Regions from separate parts of the Homo sapiens genome. Here all the other regions are linked to region 2. Evidence: fine-mapped expression QTL. A gene starts in region 2. Each other region holds a variant in brackets. All regions are shown on one strand. Distances are between the middles of the regions. Region 1 overlaps ZYG11B (zyg-11 family member B, cell cycle regulator). Region 2 holds the start of ZYG11B (zyg-11 family member B, cell cycle regulator). Region 3 overlaps PODN (podocan).

Region 1 (6,172 bases), 80 kb before region 2:
AAATTCACAATGTCTGGCATTCAATCAAAAACTACCAAGCAGAATGGGAGAAAACATTTGCAAGACATATATCTGATAAGGGATTAATATCCAGAATATATAGAGAACTCCTAAAATACAACAACAAAAACACAAACAACCCAATTTAAAAATGGGCAAAGGAATTGAATAGATATTTCTCCGAAGAAGACATACAAATGGCCAATAAACCCATACAAATATACTCAACACCACTTATCATCAGAGAAATGCAAACAAAAACTACAAGATACTGTCTCAGACCCATTAGAATGGCTACTATTAAAAAAAAAGGAAAATAACAAGCGGTGAGAATGTGGAGAAATCGGAACCCTTGGACACTGTTGGTGGGAATGTAAAACAGTAGAGCTGTTGTGGTAAACAGTATGGTAGTTTCTCAAAATTTAAAAATAGAATTATCATGATACAGTAATTCTATTTCTGGAACTATACCCCATAAAATTCAAAGTAGAGTCTTAAAAGAGATATTTGTGGCCGGGCGCGGTGGCTCACACCTGTAATCCAGCACTTTGGGAGGCAGAGGCAAGCGGATCACCTGTATGATTCCACTTACATGAAGTAGTTAAGGAGTTAAAATCATAGAGACAGAAAATAGAATGGTGGTTACCAGGGCCTGCAGAATGGGGGAATGGAATAGTATTGTTTAATGGTTACAGACGTTCAGTTTTACAAGATGAAAACAGTTACAGAGATGAGTGGTAGTGATGGTTCTACAACATTATAAAAGTATTTAATACCACTGAACAATACACTTAAAAATGGTTAAGATGGTAAATTTTACGTTGTTTACCACAATTTAAAACATAATAAATTTTTTAAAAAGTAAATTAAAACCTAAGCATGCCAAGTATCAGGAAAACATAATTCATAATGAGGAGAATAATCACTTGAAATTGACCCTGAACTGACACAGATACTAAATAAAACTAGCCGATTAGGATATTAAAAGAGTTATTAAAATTTTATTTCATATATTCAAAAAGTAGTAACACGGAAGATACAAAAAACACCTAAATTGAACTTGTAGAGATGAAAATGACAATGTCTAAGATGAAAAAATCTACCAGATGGCATTGTAGCAGATTAGATATTGCAGATGAAAAAAAATATTGAACTGAAGGCATAGCAAGGGAAACTATCCAAACTGAAACACACAGAATACAAAAGAACAAAAACATTAAAGAGCATCAGTAACATGTGGGACAATGTCAAGCAGCTTAACATGTGCAAATTAGCGTCTCCAAAGGACTCCAATATGGGGAAAAGGGCTGCAAAATTTATTTTAGGGAAATGGGCAGGTCACAGTGGCTTACTCCTGTAAGCCCAGCACTTTGGGAGGGCAAGGTGAGAGAATCACTTGAGGCCAGGAGTTTGAGACCAGCCTGGACAATACAGCAAAATCCCATCTGTACAAAAATATTTTAAAAAGAAATAATGGCTAAAAACTTTCCAAACTTGATGAAAACTATAGACCTATATATCTGAGAAGCTCAATAAATCCCAAATATAGGAAACATGAAGTTAATTACATCAAGACACATATAATCAAATATTCAAAATTGTTACTAATCTTAAATCTTTTTTTTCTTTTTTTGAGATGGAGTTTCGCTCTTGTTGCCCAGGCTGGAGTGCAATGGCGTGATCTCGGCTCACTGCAACCTCCGTCTCCTGGGTTCAAGCGATTCTCCTGTCTCAGCCTCCCGAGTAGCTGGGGTTACAGGCACCTGCCACCACACCCAGCTAATTTCTGTTATTTTGAGAAGAGATGGAGTTTCGCCATGTTGGCCAGGCTGGTCTCGAACTCCTGACCTTAGGTGATCCACCCGCCTTGGCCTCCCAAAGTGCTGGGATTCCACGCGTGAGCCACCGTGTCCGGCCAACTAATCTTAAATCTTAAAAGTAGCCAGAGGAAAAGAACGTGTACATACATAAGTACAAAGATAATGATGACATCAGATTTTTCATTAGAAAGAAGCAAGTCAGAAAAAAGCTAATCAGTATCTTTAAAGCAATGTCAATTTAGAATTATATACCTGGTAAAAGTATCTTTCAAAAACAAAGGTTAAGTAAAGATGTTTTCAGTCAGACAAAAGCTGAAGAATTCATCATCAGCAGATCCACACTGTAAGAAATGTTAAAGGATGTCTTTTAGGTTGAAGAAAAATGACACCAGGCTATGGTGGTGCACACCTATAATCCCAACACTTTGGGAGGCCAAGGTGGGTGGATCACTTGAGTTCAGGAGTTCAAGACCAGCCTGGGCAACATGGCGAAAACCCATCTCTACAAAAATTTAAAAATTAGTCGGGCATGGTAGTGTGCGCCTATAATTCCAACTACTCAGGAAGTTGAGGTTGGGGAATTGCTTTAGCCCAGGAGGTCGAGGCTGCAGTGAGCTGAGATCATGCCACTGTACTCCAGCCTGGGTGACAGAGTGAGAACCTGTCTCAAAAAAAAAAAAAAAAAAGTACTCTTAGCAATTCTGAACTATACATTATTATTAATTTAGGGATTATAGGTGTGAGCCACTGCACCCAGCCAAGAGTAAATTTTAAATGCTCTCACTACAAAAAACAGTAAGTATGTAAGGTCATGGATATGTTAATTAGCTTGATTTAATCATTCCACAGTGATTAAACACATCACAACATCACATTGGGCTGGGATGGTGCCTCACGCCTGTAATCCCAGCACTTTGGGAGGCCGAGGCTGGTGGATCACTTGAGGTCAGAAGTTCGTGATCAGCCTGGACAACATGGTGAAACCCAGTCTCTACTTAAAAAAAAAAGGCCGGGCGCGGTGGCTCACGTGAGTCTGTAATCCCAGCACTTTGGGAGGCTGAGGCGGGCAGATCATGAGGTCAGGAGTTTGAGACCACCCTGGCCA[A/G]CATGGCAAAACCCCATCTCTACTAAAAATACAAAAATTTGCCGGACACAGAGGCAGGCGCCTGTAATCCCAGCTACTGGGGAGGCTGAGGCAGGAGAATCACTTGAACCCGGGAGGTGGAGGTTGCAGCGAGCTGAGATCACACCACTGCACTCTAGCCTGGGCAACAGAGCAAGACTCCGTCTCAAAAAAAAAAAATTACATTGTACTCCACATACACAATTATTATTTTTATTATTTAAAAAAATTTAAAAATCACAGGAAATGTAAATGATCCAAATACCCCAAATAAAAAACAGATATTTTCAAACTAGATGAAAAAGCAGGATGCAAGGTATATGCTATCTACAAGAAATACATTTTAAATATAAAGACAAATATAGGTTAAAAGTAAAAGGATAAAACAAGAAATGCTATGCTAACACTAGTCAAAAGAAAGTACAAATGGCTATATCAGTATCAAAGCAGACTTCAAAGTAGAGGATATTAGCAGGGGTAAAGAAAGTCATTTGGTAACGGTAAAAGAGTCCATTAAACAGGAGGACATAATTCTAAATGTTTATACATCTAATAATACAGTTTCAAAATACATGAAGAAAAAGCTGATAGAACTGTAAGGAGAAACATACATCTACAATTACAGTCAGAGATTTCAAAACTCCTTTGTCAATAATTGATAGAACAGGTAGGCAGAAAATTAGAAAGGATGTGGTAGAATTGTACAGTATCAACTGTGACACTGTACAATCTAATTATTAATTAGTGTTAATTAATCAAGCTAATTAACAATCAGTGACCTGATTGTCATTTATAGAACACTATACCCAATAATAAGACAATACACATTCCTCTCAAGTGTACATGGAATATTTACCAAAATAGACCATATCCTTGGCCATTCACAAGTCTCAATAAATTCAGAAGGACTCAAACCAAACAAAGCATATTCTCTGACCATAAATAATTAAATTAGAATAAATATCTCAAATTAAATTATTGAAAAAATTTAATCACAAGGTAACAGAGAAAAATATGGAAGGAAACATATAAAGTTATATTAATATTAATAACTTCATGGAGATAAAAATGACGAAAGGTTGGAGACAGAGCCTTAAGGATGTTAAATACAGTTTTGCACTGTTTCACTAGTTATAACAACATGTATTCCTTTGGAAATTTAAAAAAATATATAGGTTTTTTTTTGAGATGAAGTCTTTTTTGTTTTGTTTTGTTTTTGTTTTCTGAGACAGAGTTTTGCTCTGTTGCCCAGGCTTGGAGTACAGTGGCGTGATCTTGGTTCACTGCAGCCTCTGCCTCCCAGGTTCAAGCAATTCTCCTGCCTCAGCTTTCCGAGTAGCTGGGACAGGCATGGGCCACCACGGCTGGCTAATTTTTGTATTTTCAGTGGAAACGGGGTTTCACCATGTTGGCTAGGCTGGTCTTGAACTCCTGACCGCACGTGATCCACCCACCTCAGCCTCCCAAAGTGCTGGGATTACAGGCATGAGCCACTGCACCCAACCCACAAATATTTAAAATAAATTTCACCTTTCCGTTTCAGATGACCTGAGCCAACTTCTGTATCAAATAATCATATTAACCCTGAAAAAACAATCAAATGCTGTAATTTATTTAATAATTCCTCTATTACTGGACATTTAGGTTGTTTTCCATTTTCTACCTTATATAATGAAGGCTACAACAACAGATAGGTCTTCCTTAAATGGCAGTCCTCAGCTTTCCTAAAAATCCATCTCCTCACTGCTTGCATGTGGAAAACAAGCTCCAATTTACATTTTTTAACTCACTAATCTATGCCTCCCATAATCTAATTCCTTGAGAGCAGAGGTCTGCTTTTTTGTGCTCACTTGACAGCATATATACTAAAATTGGAACGGTACAGTGAAGATTAGCATGACCCCTGTGCAGGGATACATGTAAATTTGCAAAGTGTTCCATTTTTTTTTTTTTTTTTTTTTTTGAGACAGAGTTTTGCTCTTGTTGCCCAGGCTGGAGTGCAATGGTGCGATCTCGGCTCACAGCAACCCCCGCCTCCCGGGTTCAAGTGATTCTCCTGCCTCAGCCTCTCGAGTAGCTGGGATTACAGACATGCGCCACCACGCCCGGCTAATTTTGTATTTTTAGTAGAAACGAGACTTCTCCATTTTGGTCAGGCTGGTCTCGAACTCCCGACCTCAGGTGATCTGCCTGTCTCAGCCTCCCAAAGTGCTGGGATTACAGACATGAGCCACTGCACCTGACCAATATTTTTTTCAAAAATAAAAAATAAAATAAAATGGCTTTTGCCACATAGACACTTTGCCTGTTACAGCAATTAAGCTGATAAAACATTTGATCTTTACCTTTGTCTCAAAATCCTAGAGGGCTTACTTTAATCCATATCCAATATGTTAAGAAATATGTGATTTGTAAGCAGGCTTTTGTTTTTTGTTTTTTTTTCTGAGACCGTCTCACCCTGTTGCCCAGGCTAGAGTGCAATGGTGCAATCTCGGCTCACAGCAACCTCCACCTCCCAGGTTCAAGCGATTCTCATGCCTCAGCCTCCTGAGTAGCTAGGATTATAGGCATGTACCAGCACACCTGGCTAACTTTTGTATTTTTAATAGACATGGGGTTTCACTATGTTGGGCAGGCTGGTCTCAAACTCCTGACCTCAGGTGACCCGCCTGCCTCACCCTCCCAAAGTGCTGGGATTACAGGCTTGAGCCACTATACTCGGCCTTCGTAAGCAGTCTTTAAGTAGTAATCATTAACTATCAAACACAGACTCTAAGAACACTTGTAGGTTAATGACTTTTTTTTTTAAGAGACTGGGTCTCACTCTGTCACCCAGGCTGGAGTGCAGTAGGATGAGCACAGCTCACTGCAGCCCTCAAACTCCTAGGGTCAAGTGATCCTCCTGCCTGAGCCTCCCCACTAGCTGGGACTACAGGTACATGTCACCATGTTCAGCTAATTTTCTTATTTCACTTTTTGTAGAGATGGGGTTGTGCTTCGTTGCCCAGGCTGGTCTCAAACTCCTAGGCTCAAGCAATTCTCTCACCTCATCCTTCCAAAGTGTTGGGATTACAGGCATGAGTCACTGTGTCCAGTCTGATAACATTTTTTAATGAGATCTGGTTTACCAATTATAAAAGTGAAACACAAGGCCAAGTGTGGTGGCTCATGCCTGTAATCCCAGCACTTTGGGAGGCCAAGGCAGGAAGACTGCTTGAGCCCAGGAATT
Region 2 (6,172 bases):
AAAATATTGCACGAGAAAGTGGCCTCTACTGATAATTCCTAGCTCAAAATAAGCTAATATTCTGCCTTCTCCTCACCTCTCCCATACATACACTGTTACTCTGTGTGTATATGTTTTAACAAGCAAGGAAAAATCAAGTTAATTAGATGCAAAGTTTAAAACATAATCATGCCTAATATGTCTGCTGTGGTCTGAATTCTGTCTCCCTAAATTCATATGTTGGAATCCTAACCCCCAAGGTAATGGTATGAGGAGGTGGGGCCTTTGGGAGGTGATTAGATCACCAGTTAGTGCCCACATGAATGGGATTAGTGCCCTTATAAAAGAGACTCCAGAGAGCTGCCTGGCCCCTGCCACCATGTGTGAAAACAGTGAAAAGGTGACTTAGGAAGAGCCCTCACGAGACACTGAATCCACTGGGGAACTGATTTTGGACTTCCCAGCCTTCCAAACTCTGAGAAATAAATTTCTGTTGCTGACAAGCTACCTAGTTTATGGTATTTTGTTACAGTAGATTGAATGGGCTAAGACAGTATCTTGCTAGCCTCATTTCCTACTACACATCTCCATTCTTGCATCCTTCCATGCTATATAAGGGTAATACTACTTCCTACAATGCATCCTAATTCCTTCCTACTTTCTTTCTTAAAAAAAAAAAAATCCCTGTGAGGGGATCCTTTCTACTTGCTACTCACATTCACAATGAGGCATTCTTCCCCTTCCCAAAATGATCTATATAAATCCTATTCAACTTTCAGGCCCAGCTCAAAGGACACTTTTAGATCCTAAATACCTCAAAGGGGAGTTCATAACTCCTCCCTCTCATACATTCATTCTCAATGGAAGGGCCCACACTTTCAAAAATCTAGCAGTGTAATGTCTTAGGTAGGATAGCTCTTTATTCTGAAAAGTATATCATCATACCTCACTCAATATCATTTTTGCATCAAAATTAAGATTCTCTGCCCAGGCGTGATGGCTCATGCCTGTAATTCTAGCACTTTGGGAGGCCAAGGTGGGAGGATGGCTTGAATCCAGGAGGTCAAGACCAGACTGGGCAACACAGCAAGACTCCATTTCTACAAAAAGTTTTACAAATTAGCGGGGCACGGTAGTCCGTGCCTGTGGTACCAGCTACTTGTGAGGCTGAGGTGGGAAGATCACTTGACCTCAGGAGTTCAAGGTTGCAAAGAGCCATGATTGTGCCACTGCATTCCAGCCTGGGCCACAGAGCAAGATCGTCTCCAAACAACAATTCTCAAACTCACTCTTTCTGTGTAGTCCACTAGTTACCTCAAATTTCAGTTTAAGTTTATATTAGTCAGGTGGGAAATGAGACCATAAAGTGAATCATTCAAGCACCTAGCTGGCCTGGGCACTTGGAATAATAAGTAAGGAACGGTTGCTACCTAGAACTTACATTCCACAGGGAGAAACAGGTTAGCATACAACAACAGTGTGTGAAAGTGAAGGAGACAAACACAGGAAAATGACAGACTAAAAATGCAGGAGTGAGTTAGGGAAAATTCATAGATTAAATAATTTTATAGTATATTACTTTTCTAAAAAACTGCTGGAGGGAAAAAAAGAAACTGACTAACCTCCTAGGGGAACATAATTATCAGGACTTAGTTTTGCCTTATTCCTCCCAGAGACCAAAATTTAGCTTGTTGCATATGATGGAGCAATGTTTTCAATAAATGTACAGCAAACCACTTATAACCCAACTCAATGAAAAAACCAACTGAAGCCTCAACCTATTTTCAGACAGAAAGAAAATTTGCAAATATAAGGTTCTCCCAACTAAAGGCAGACAGGGCAAAACAAATGAACTCTTTAGAAGGTTTAAAGAGACTGTCACAACCTGCCAACCTGATTGTCAGTCCTCAAATGCCCTTGGTCTCTGCCTCCAAATGAAAACAAATCATTTGTTTTTAGTAATAATAGCCAAGCTTGTAAATAAGTATTTTTAAACTTCTCCAACTGCACCTCCACATTAAAAGATGCTCAAAATAAAAAAAATTCAAAACATTTTTTAGCTATTTCTGTCAAAAGACTAGATCTCTCCTGAGGTCACAGTATGCATGCTGGCCCTCACTTCACTGCTCTGTAACACACCACCACTTCGATTTTGCAATGACACTAGGTGAATAGGCTTCCAGGATCTCTTCAATGCCTCCAAAAACGAAAAGGAAGAAGCAAACCTATAAATCCCTATCTGCCCGCCCTACAGCTCCCGGGAAGCAACAGTCCTCAAATTGTTCCTGCTTAGACCCCTGAAGCCCGTAGAAGGAAATGGGGACAGCTGCGACGGCGAACCGAGCGAGGACATCCGATAAGGGAAGAGGAAACGTGGATGGAAGAGGACGAAGGGGAGAAGGAACACGGAGAGAAGGGGGCAGTGGAGATAAAATGGTGAAGAGGGGTGAGAAGAGCAAGGAAGAGCAGCGAAAACTAGGGAGGAAAGGGGGGAAAGTAAAAATCACATAAGAGGAAAAAAGGCAAAATGATAGAGGAGAAAGAAAGGAAGGGTTAGGGTTAAAGGACAAGGAGTGGGCGACAAAGGGAATGCGAAAAAGGCTGTCACTGGGGGTGATAAAAAGGATGTCATCGGGGAGAAGGGAGATTCAGGGGGTGTCACCTAAAGGGGTTCACCGAAGCAGGTGAATGGGGAAGGAGGAGCTGAACACCGAGGGGGCGGTAACGAGGGAGAGAGGTAAAGGCAGGGAGCCCGAGGGGACACCAGAGACAGGGAGGGGCAAGACCGCAGGGGCCAGCGCGACGGGCGGGGGCTAGGGTGGCGGGCGGCTGCGGCTAGGGCAGGCCTTGCTCCCTCACCATGGCTGCGCCGGCCTGGTCCTCGGGCATGCAGCCTCCGTCCTGGGTGCGGCGGCGGGCCGGACCGGAGCCCGCCCCCAGGCTGAGCCGGCGCGGAGGCTCCAGGAGGCTCCGGCGAGCGGCGGCTCCGGGCTTGGCCCAGGCCTCGGCCTCTTTCCCTCAAGCTAGGAGCGTAGCAGTAGCAGCCGCAGCCGCAGCCGCAGCCGCAGCCCGAACCAGAGCGCAGACTCCGCCCCCGCGAGGACCCGCCCGGGCGCGCGAGCCCGCGCCTGGACCCGCCTCCGCTCTCAATGCGCAGACTCAGACGAGGGGGTCCCGCCCCCCCCAGCCCGACCTCCAGCTTCTCCCCCTCCCAGGCCCTTAAAGGAGCCACACACCCCCAAATCCTAGCATCCCTTCAAAATATGAAAAGCTTTAAATATTACATCATGACGAGAGATTAGAGCATCGCTCACTTCGGTCACCTATAGACTCCTCTGTCATTCACCATCATTCTCTAAGATTTGGGCTTCTGGTTCACTGTCATTCATTACTACTATTGTCATAACTCTTGGTTATTTCAAAATTCGCTTAATTCTTCCAATCCTCTGGCCTCTCAGATTCTTCTCTAGGGATCATTCTTGGCTCAGCCTCTCACTCTCATGCTCATACGAATAATTGTAACTTCTCTACAATCTCAATTTTAATCCTCTAACTCCCATTGCAACCTTCTTCCTTTCTTTCTTTCTTTCTTTCTTTCTTTTTTTTTTTTTTTTTTGAGATGGAGTTTCGCTCTTGTTGCCCAGGCTGGAGTGCAGTGGTGCGATCTTGGCTCACTGCAACCTCCACCTCCCGGGTTCAAGTGATTCTCCTGCCTTAGCCTCCCGAGTAGCTGGGATTACAAACACCCGGCACCACACCCGGCTAATTTTTGTATTTTTAGTAGAGAAGTGGCTTCACCATGTTGGCCAGGCTGGTCTCGAACTCCTGACCTCAGGTGATCCGCTTGCCTTGGCCTTCCAAAGTGCTGGGATTACAGGCGTGAGCCGCTGCGCCCGGCCACAACCTTCTTCCTTTCTAGCTCACTCTGTCTGATAATACTCCAACTCCAAAAACTTCAACTCCAAGACCCCAAATCCATTGATCCAACTACCTTTTCGCTATTCCTCCCCACGCTGGCCTTATGTACTCACTTTCTTCCTGAAACAGCTTAGATTCTATCGTCCGTCATGAAATGGAATCTAATAGAATCTAAGCTGTTTGGGGAAGAAAGTGAGTACATGAGGTACATGAAGTCGATTTCTTCAGTATTACCTTCATTTCTCTAGTCGTTCTCTGCTTTCTTTGTACTGACAGAACTCCAGCAATGGAGTGGGTGGAGAAAAAGCCAAAAGTGGTTGACTGACTCCCCGTAAATTTGAGATCATTATTCTCAAGAGGCCATAATGAGTGGCTACCCTACCACATTTCTCCAGTTTCACACACTCTCCCACCTTGCTACATAACTATTTCAAGTCTCCTGTCTCTTCAAACCTCCGACACTTCCTCCCTCATCTCATTTAGCTGATGATTTTGCTTCTAATTCACAAGAAAATCAAACAAACCAAAAAGAACATCTACAAGTTCCCAGCACCCACCATGACTTCCAACGAACCTGTAACTCTGCTTTGATGCTCTCTCTGCCTTCCTTTCCTTACTACAAGTTAATTATTTGTCTTTTAGCTAACATCAAATCCTCCTCAGTTCTCAAGCATCTGTGCTAAAAGACCCAGATTTTATCCCCAATCACAAAACTAAATTTCTGTAAAATACAATCAAAATTAATTACTAGAAAAAATTAAAATTTAAAAACAAGCATCCAAAATGCAAGCCCAGATTTTTTAAACCTGCTTAACCATTTTAAAGTGTACAGTTCAATGGTATTAAATACATTCACATTGTTGTGCAACCATCCCCATCAAGAAGCTCCAGAACTTTTTATTTTTTCTTTTATTTATTTATTTATTTATTTATTGAGACAAGTTCTTACCCTGTCACCCATCAGGAGTACAGTGGCACAATCACGGCTCACTCAGCCTCAAACTCCTGGGCTGAAGCGATCCTCCCACCTCAGCCTCCTAAGCAGCTAGAACTACAGGCACATACCACCACGCCTGGCTACCTTTTTTTTTTTTTTTTTTTGTAGAGACAAGGTCTCACTGTGTTGCCCAGGTTTGTCTCAAACTCCTAGGCTCAAGTAATCCTCCTGCCACAGACTTCTAAAGTGCTAGGATTACAGACGTGAGCCAATGTGCCAGGCCTCCAGAACTTTTTTATCTTGCAAAGCTGAAAGCTTGTACTCATTAAACAATAACTCCCCATTCCTAACTTCCCCCAATCCCTCGCCATCACTGTTCTGCTTTCTATCTCTATGAATTTGACTACTCTAGGCAGAATTTTTATTATTAAACCCAACACGCGTAACATTTTTCTGTCAAATTGTTATAAAAGTTTCAAAATATTAATTCTGAATTGCTGTCACAAACTGGTGAAAAACCATTTCTAGATGGTCACTAGTCCATTGATGACACTTTGAGGAGCTCAAGTACTAGGTCTCATACCACGTCACTTTCTCAAAGACACCTATCCAGCAATTCTTCCTCTCACCTACATCGCTATTTTTCTGCTATTACCTCTCATTGCTATAGCAACATGATTTTATTTCTTCCATCTTAAAACAATCAAACAAAAAAACCCTCCTTAGGTTGCAGTGAGCCAAGATCACGCCACTGCACTCTAGCCTGGGCAACAGAGCGAGACTCCACCTCAAAAAAAAAAAAAAAACCCTCTCTTGACTGGACTTGACCCCCCACCTACTGCCCCATTTCTCCATTCTCTTTTCTGCAAAATGTCTCACAAAGGTGGCTTGTACATGGTCTCACTCTGTTGCTTAGGCTGGAGTGCAGTGGTGCGATCTCAGCTCACTGCAACCTTAGCCTCCTGGGTTCAAGCAATCCTCCCACTTCAGCCTCCCAAGTAGCTGGAACTACAGGCATGTGCCACCACGTCCAACTAATTTTTGTATTTTTTGTGGAGATGAGGTTTCATCATGTTGCCTAGGCTGGTCTTGAACTCCTGAGCTCAAGCAATCTGCCTGCCTTGGCCTCCCAAAATGCTGAGATTACAGGCATGAGCCACCTCGCCTGGCCTTGACTTCCTTTTTCTCATTTTCGGTGAGATCCTCTCTGGTTAAGCTTTTACCTCCTCCACTCCACTGAAATGCCCTTGTCAAGGTCACTAGTGGTGTCCATTTGCTGACACCAGTCAATTCTCAGTCCTCGTGTTACTTGACCTACCAACATCACTAGACACAGCT
Region 3 (6,172 bases), 350 kb before region 2:
TTGGGAGCTGTCTCTATGCCATCCCTGGCATTAACCCCAAGGCCTGAGGCTCCTGGGCTGCGGTAGCCAGGGGTCACCGCAGTGCCTGATGTGGAGTGGCACAAAGGCAAGGCCAGCGCTGAGCCAGGCCAGGGCCACACTCAGGGGTGGAAAGGTGGAGGCTGTGGCTCTGATCTCAGGCCCCTCACTCTCTGTGCTTCAGCTACCCTGCAGATGCCTGAGGCACATGTCAAGCCACCCTGATATCATCGAGCCCAGGGCTTTCTGGGCAACCGAGCTCCTGGGAGCACACTCATCTCTGCCTTGTCTCCTTCTCTCTGATTTGGGGGCAGGGATTGTGGGAAGTGCTGGGAAGAACCACCCTGGCTCTGCTGCATGGAAGCCCCTCATATCCTCAGGGAGCTGCATCCCCCGAATCACTCCAAATCCCCATCTCTTAGCCCCAGAAGCCAGGGAGGGCCTGAACATCTATTCCTGAGTGTGAGGCCCGGACCCAGCCTGGATGGCTGCAGACACAGCAGTCACCTGTGCTCTCAGGGCCTCAGCTCTCTCAGCTGCAAACCAGGAAGATGCTGTCCAGCATCCTTTCTGCCACAGTAACATTCACAACGCCCATGCGCACTGGCTTCTAACGTTTCCAAAGCCCTTTTACAAACCTAGGAACCATATCGGGCCTGGCCAGGACTGTCCCCACCCTTGAGATCTGAGCCGTGGTTACACAGGCAGCAGTGGAGCCAAGCTGTTCCCACGTGCATCAACTGTCCCGTTGGAGCCAGGGTGGGCCCCACGGGGGTGTGTACAGGGCCGCGAGTGGGCTCCTACCTGAGAAAGATCCCCTTGAGGTTGGGCGTGGAGTCGAAGGCATTGGCGGGCACCGCACTAATCTTGTTGTTCTGCAGGTACAGGTACTCAAGTGACTCGGGGAGCCCCTCGGGGATCTCTGTGAGCTGATTCCCGGCGATGTCCAGCAGCTGCAGGGGTGACCAAGGGAGTCAGGGACTCCCACCTGTGCAAAGCACTTAACAGCTTACAAAACTCCCACCAAGCCCCCAGCCTATCTAAATCTAACAATAACCCTGTGTGGAGGAGGGGGGGTGTCTATAATTATCCCCACTTCCCAGATTGGGAAATAGAGGCTCAGAGAGGTTAAGTGATCTTTCCAAGGTCACATAACCTATAAAAGGCTGTAGCCGGGTGTGCCTGACTCCAAACCCTTATTCTAATTGATGAACGTCCTACCCAGCTTCTTGTGCCTTCCCACATAAACCCACAGCCAAGATGTTTGGGTGTCACAGTCCTATCTCCTGACACACTTGTCATTCCCATTAGACTTGGTCATTCCCAAAGATCTCAAATGGGCAGAGCCCAGGGATCCCCCAGACTCTGAATCTCACCCCACTGGCCCTGGATGGGTGCAGTGGGAGCTGCTTGAGTGGGACTGCTCACTTATGGACCTCAGGGGCCACACGTGCAGAGGTCAGGAGCAACGGTGTGAGACCCACAGTGACCCCAGCACAACAGCCAGGCCCCAGGCCATTCTGTCTCAGATCATCACATGCCTGGCATCCAGGGGAGGGCAGTCAGGAAAGTGGGTTCCCACAGGGAGCCGCTGAAGCCACTGGGCAGTGCCTAAACTGGCAGCACCCCACCCTCCCTCCCAGGTTCTCTGATGAGTTTCCTTTTTTTTTTTTTTTTTTTTAATTTGAGACAGCGTCTCACTCTGTCGTCCAGGATTGAGTGCTGTAGCGTGATCATAGCTCACTGCCAGCTCTATCTTCCTTAGGCTCAAGTGATCCTCCCACCTCAGCCCCCCAGGGTGAGATGCATGCCACTGCACGGGGCTAAATTTTTTTAAGTTTATTTTTTTGTAGAGATGAGGTCTCATTATGTTGCCCGGGCAAGCCTCAAACTCCTGGGCTCAAGTGATCCTCCTGCCTCAGCCTCTCTAACTGCTGAGATTCAGGCATGAGCCAGCGTATAGAGTGGATTTCTCTTTCACCCACACTGGTTGAGTTGGGGGTTTTGTTACCAAAGTGAACTATGTGCCCAGGCATCCCTGCCTAATTCTGACCATGTGGTCACAGCAGCCACATCGACTGGCCAGCCTCAGAAAGCATGAGTAGATCCCCACCTCCAGCCCTCTGCAGACTGGTGAGGTGGGCCCACAGCTCAGGCTGTCCCCTCTGCCTCCCATCCCAAAGCCCAGCCTTCTCCACATACCTACTCCTGTGCCTGCAAAGGGGTGAGCTTGACTCTCCCATACATACCACCCGAACTGGCCCCCGGTCCTCCTGAGCCTAGGGCCCCTACCTGCAGCCATGACCTTCCTTACCTCCACAGCCCTTCTCAAACCTGTATCTGCAGGTGATGAGCTCAGCTCGGTCATACCACCTGTACTCTGCCCCTCACTCTTGTACCTGCAGGTGGGCTGGGCTCACCCTGGCATGCCAGCCACACCCTCTGCCTGACCCACCTCCTGCCTCCCCTAAGGCCTAGCTTCGCCTTAGCCAGCATCTCCAGCAGATACCTGAAGGTGAATGAGCTCAGCCTGGCCATACCAGAGGAACCTCCCTCACCACCCAGCCCTTCTCCTCACCCTTCAGACAGGTGGGCTCAGGGCAGCCATGCCAGTACCCCCCTCCATGGGCATGGCTCAGCCCCCTCCCTTCCGCTTACCTGCAGATGGGCGAGGTCCACCCAGGCACGGGGGCCCAGGGCTCGGCTGCGCAGTCGGTTGCTGGTGAGGTACAGCTCACGCAGCTGAGCCATGCCCACCAGCGCCCCTCGTGCCAAGGCAGCCAGCTCATTGCGCTTGACCTTCAGCACATGGACATTTCGAGGCAGCCCAGGTGGCAGC[G/A]TGTGCAGCCGGTTGCCCGACAGGTCCAGCGAGCGCAGCAGGCGCAGCTTGCGGAAGGCGTCGCGGTGCACCTGCGGGCTGGTGATGCGGTTGTAGCTGAGGTTGAGCTCCTCCAGGAAGTAGGTGGTGGCAAAGTCTTCGCGGCCAATGCCTGTGATCTGGTTGTGCAGGATCATGAGGGTGCGCACGCGGCGAGGCAGGCCACTGGGCACGCGCTCCAGCGCGTTGTTGTACAGGTGCACCGTGTGCAACCGCTTGAGGCCCTGGAAGGCCAGTGGGTGGATGCCCTGCTCCCGCAGCTGGTTGCTGTGCAGCAGCAGGTACTCCAGGCTGCGGATGGGGGTCAGCACATTCGCGTCCACGCTCCGGATGGCGTTCTTCTCCAAGTGCAGCAGCACCAGGCTGCGCGGCAGCCCAGCTGGGACCCGAGACAGGTTGTTGCTGGACAGATCCAGGTACTCCAGGCTGGAGAGCTTCCTGGGGCAGGGAGGGAATTAGGACGGTTGGCAAGAGCCCACATTGTGCTCGTTTCCACCATGATTCCCAAGAGATGTGGCTGGGGAATTGCCACTAGCTCCTCCCAGCTCTGCTGCTCACTGACTGTGGGCCCTCAGTCCTTGCTCCTTGGGTTGACTCAATGATATTCTGGTGTAGGAAGGATCCGGCATTTTCTGACACACAGGAGTTTACTTGAAGACCACTATTTAACCTTTTGATAGCCTTTTATGGCTACCCTGGTCCCTTAGAAAAATGAAAATGCATTTGCCTTCAGCAAGAATGCCCGAGTCTGTATTTCGCACCAAGAAGCCAGCCTCCACCAACGCTTCTTTGCCTCACTGGAATCTTGGAAGGCCTTACTTCTACATAGTCCTTGTTCCCAGGGACAGAAATGTCAACAGAGGCACAAGGCTTAAAGTTCCTTCTCCAGGGAAGGTGGGCAGGGGACGTGCGTGAGGGGCTGGGCTGGGCTGGATGGTTGGCCCTGAAGGAGCTTCCCGGGCCCCGTGGTCACGCCAAGGACCTGGTGAGACAAGGACTCACCAGAAGGTCTCGTTGTCCAGGCCCTCGTCAGTCAGGTAGTTGTTCTGCAGGTATAGCTCGCGCAGGCTGCTCAGCTCGCTGAAGGCCCCCGGGGGGATCTTCTCCAGCTTGTTGTTCTGGGGGATGGAAGGGAAGGGAGGAGATTGTGAGGGAGGGCCGAGGGCAAGGTCAGGGCCTCGGGATGAGGTGTGGAGAGGAGTCTGGGAAGCCACCAGGAAGGCACCCAGACCTGAAGCAACCCAGGTGTGGGGCCACCAACGCCACACACAACCCACTGGCCAGGTGCCCGGGTTTCTGCCCACTTCTCCACAGTAGACTCCTTGCTGTCAGCCCCGGGGCCCCACTTGGGCAGCACCTGTGGCCATGTGGGCCTGAGCTCTTCCCCTGCAGGCCCCTGCCCCAGTGCCCTGGCTGTGGGGTCTGCTGTGCCCCTCCTTACCCCTCCCCTGCCCACCTTGAGGTGCAGCTTGTACAGGGCAGGCGGCAGGTGCTTGGGCACGTGGCGCAGGAAGTTGCTGGACAGGATGAGGACCTCGACGTTGCTGGAGCCGTTGAACATGTTGTCCGGCAGCCCGGCGTCTGCCAGCTTGTTGTTGTGCAGGTACACAGACCTGGGGGTCAAGGCACAGGTCCTCACCCACCTGGGCTCCCCAGGCCCTGCGCCAGCTCAACTGGTGAGCCTCTAAACCCTTGCCCAGGCTGCTCTCCTTCCATCCAAACTCAAGGGTACAGAGTTAGAAGCACCTCAGATGTTGCCTACACAGCTGACAGAACCAAGGACCAGAAGGGGCCGTGCCCCACCACAGGTGGTCCCATAAGCTAGCGGGAGAAATAGGATTTCCTGACCCCTGGCAGAGGCCCCTCCACGCCTTTCAAGGTCTCAGTTGACCCCTGACCCTTTCAGCCCTGGAGTCCTTGCCTGACTCGCGGCCCCTTCATCCCTGCCTGTCAACCCCACGCAGCCTGGCTCTGAGTTCCTAGGACTTCCTAAACACAGGGCCTATCTCTGCCTGCCTCTTTGGCCCTAGTGCCAGCACAGGGCCTGTCTCAGAGGAGGTGGCCCTCATCCATTCAGCAAATATATAGTTAATATATTATGTAATATAATATATTAAATAGAGATATATGCATATATATATAAAAGGTGTATAAATAAATATATATATGAGATGCCAGAGCTGTTCTAGACTGAGGGCATAACAGTGGACATGACCAATGAGACAGACCCTGCCCTCGTGGACCCAACATACTAGAAGGAGGGAAGACAAGGAACAAGGGTCATCTGTGACAGACACAGCTCAGTTTTGCTGTGTGGCCCGTCTTGAGCCTCTGTCTGTGGGATGGGGCCGTGTACAGTGGTCCTGGGTCCTCAGACAGATGGAGAGAGTCACTGAGATGGCAGACGCAGGGATGGAAGGGCACTGGGGTTGTCCAGCCCCCAAACTGTCCTGGAGGCGGCTCCCCGGCAGCCCCCCACCCCGCCTGCACCACACTGCTCTCTCGCACACCTATGCTGGGGGGCGGTTGCTCCTCCCAATGCAGCTCAGCGAAGGGCAGTTCTGCCTGTTGAAAGATGCTCCCCTTCCCCAGGGGCTGGGAAAGTGGGGACATCCTCACTGGTTCACCACAATTCCTGTAGACAACACTCTCTGTCCTCACCTCCTGGCCCGAGTTGTCCTCCTCTGTTAGGGCCCCTGGGTGTCCCTCCACCACAGCCCTGAGTGCAGGGCCTCCTTCGGGACCTGTCTCTGCCTCACACAGGATGGCAGCCTCCACCTCAGCCCCTCCCCTTGCCCCAGCCCGAGCCCTGACCACCCCCGACCTCTGACCTCAAGTTTGGCTTCTGGCCAAAGGTGAGCCCATAGATCTTGGTGAGATAGTTGGCAGCAAAGTCCACACTGATCAGGGCGTTTGGCAGGAAGCGGGGTGCCAAGGTCAGCTGGGAAGGGAAGAGTTGGGGCCGAAAGAGCAATGGAGGAGCAGAGGCCAGCTGTGGGTCCCACTGCCTGCTGCCCACCGGGGCCCCTTCACTGTGTCTCCCTGCAACCAGGCCATCTTTCTCAAATTGAAACTTGTCCCACCCCCTCTGCAAAAACAAAAACAAAACCTCTCTGGCTGTCCTCAGCACTCAGCTTGGCATTCAAGGCCCTCAGGACTTGTCCCCTGCCCTGCCCGTCCTCCTGGGTTCATCCCGCGTGGATAAGGGGCAGAGGTGGGTGTGGCTTTTACACCTGATCTTAGCCAAAAGACCAAGAAGCGATGGGTGTGACTTCA

Evidence for each region. PIP is the estimated chance that this variant, and not a neighbour inherited with it, causes the effect. A credible set is the group of variants that fine-mapping cannot tell apart.
Region 1: its variant is the best candidate, but not a certain one, in a credible set for the expression of ZYG11B in whole blood (TOPMed, PIP 0.65).
Region 3: its variant is the best candidate, but not a certain one, in a credible set for the expression of ZYG11B in anterior cingulate cortex (GTEx, PIP 0.57).

The regions. Positions count from the first base shown.
Region 1 is chr1:52,803,826-52,809,997 of GRCh38, reverse strand. The region is part of intron 10 of ZYG11B (zyg-11 family member B, cell cycle regulator); the gene reads right to left. It also overlaps the pseudogene RNU6-969P. Among named protein-coding and RNA genes, the nearest start is that of ZYG11A, 36 kb to the left of the region's middle. The variant A/G (reference allele first, on the strand shown) is at 2,926.
Region 2 is chr1:52,723,350-52,729,521 of GRCh38, reverse strand. It overlaps ZYG11B (zyg-11 family member B, cell cycle regulator), which reads right to left and starts at 3,069. Exons shown (of 14, transcript NM_024646.3): 1 at 2,839-3,069. The coding sequence starts at 2,868. RefSeq lists a silencer at 2,679-3,258.
Region 3 is chr1:53,075,527-53,081,698 of GRCh38, reverse strand. PODN (podocan) reads right to left here. Exons shown (of 11, transcript NM_153703.5): 5 at 5,728-5,837; 6 at 4,353-4,509; 7 at 3,899-4,014; 8 at 2,677-3,334; 9 at 823-971. Among named protein-coding and RNA genes, the nearest start is that of PODN, 16 kb to the right of the region's middle. RefSeq lists an enhancer at 1-541. The variant G/A (reference allele first, on the strand shown) is at 2,858.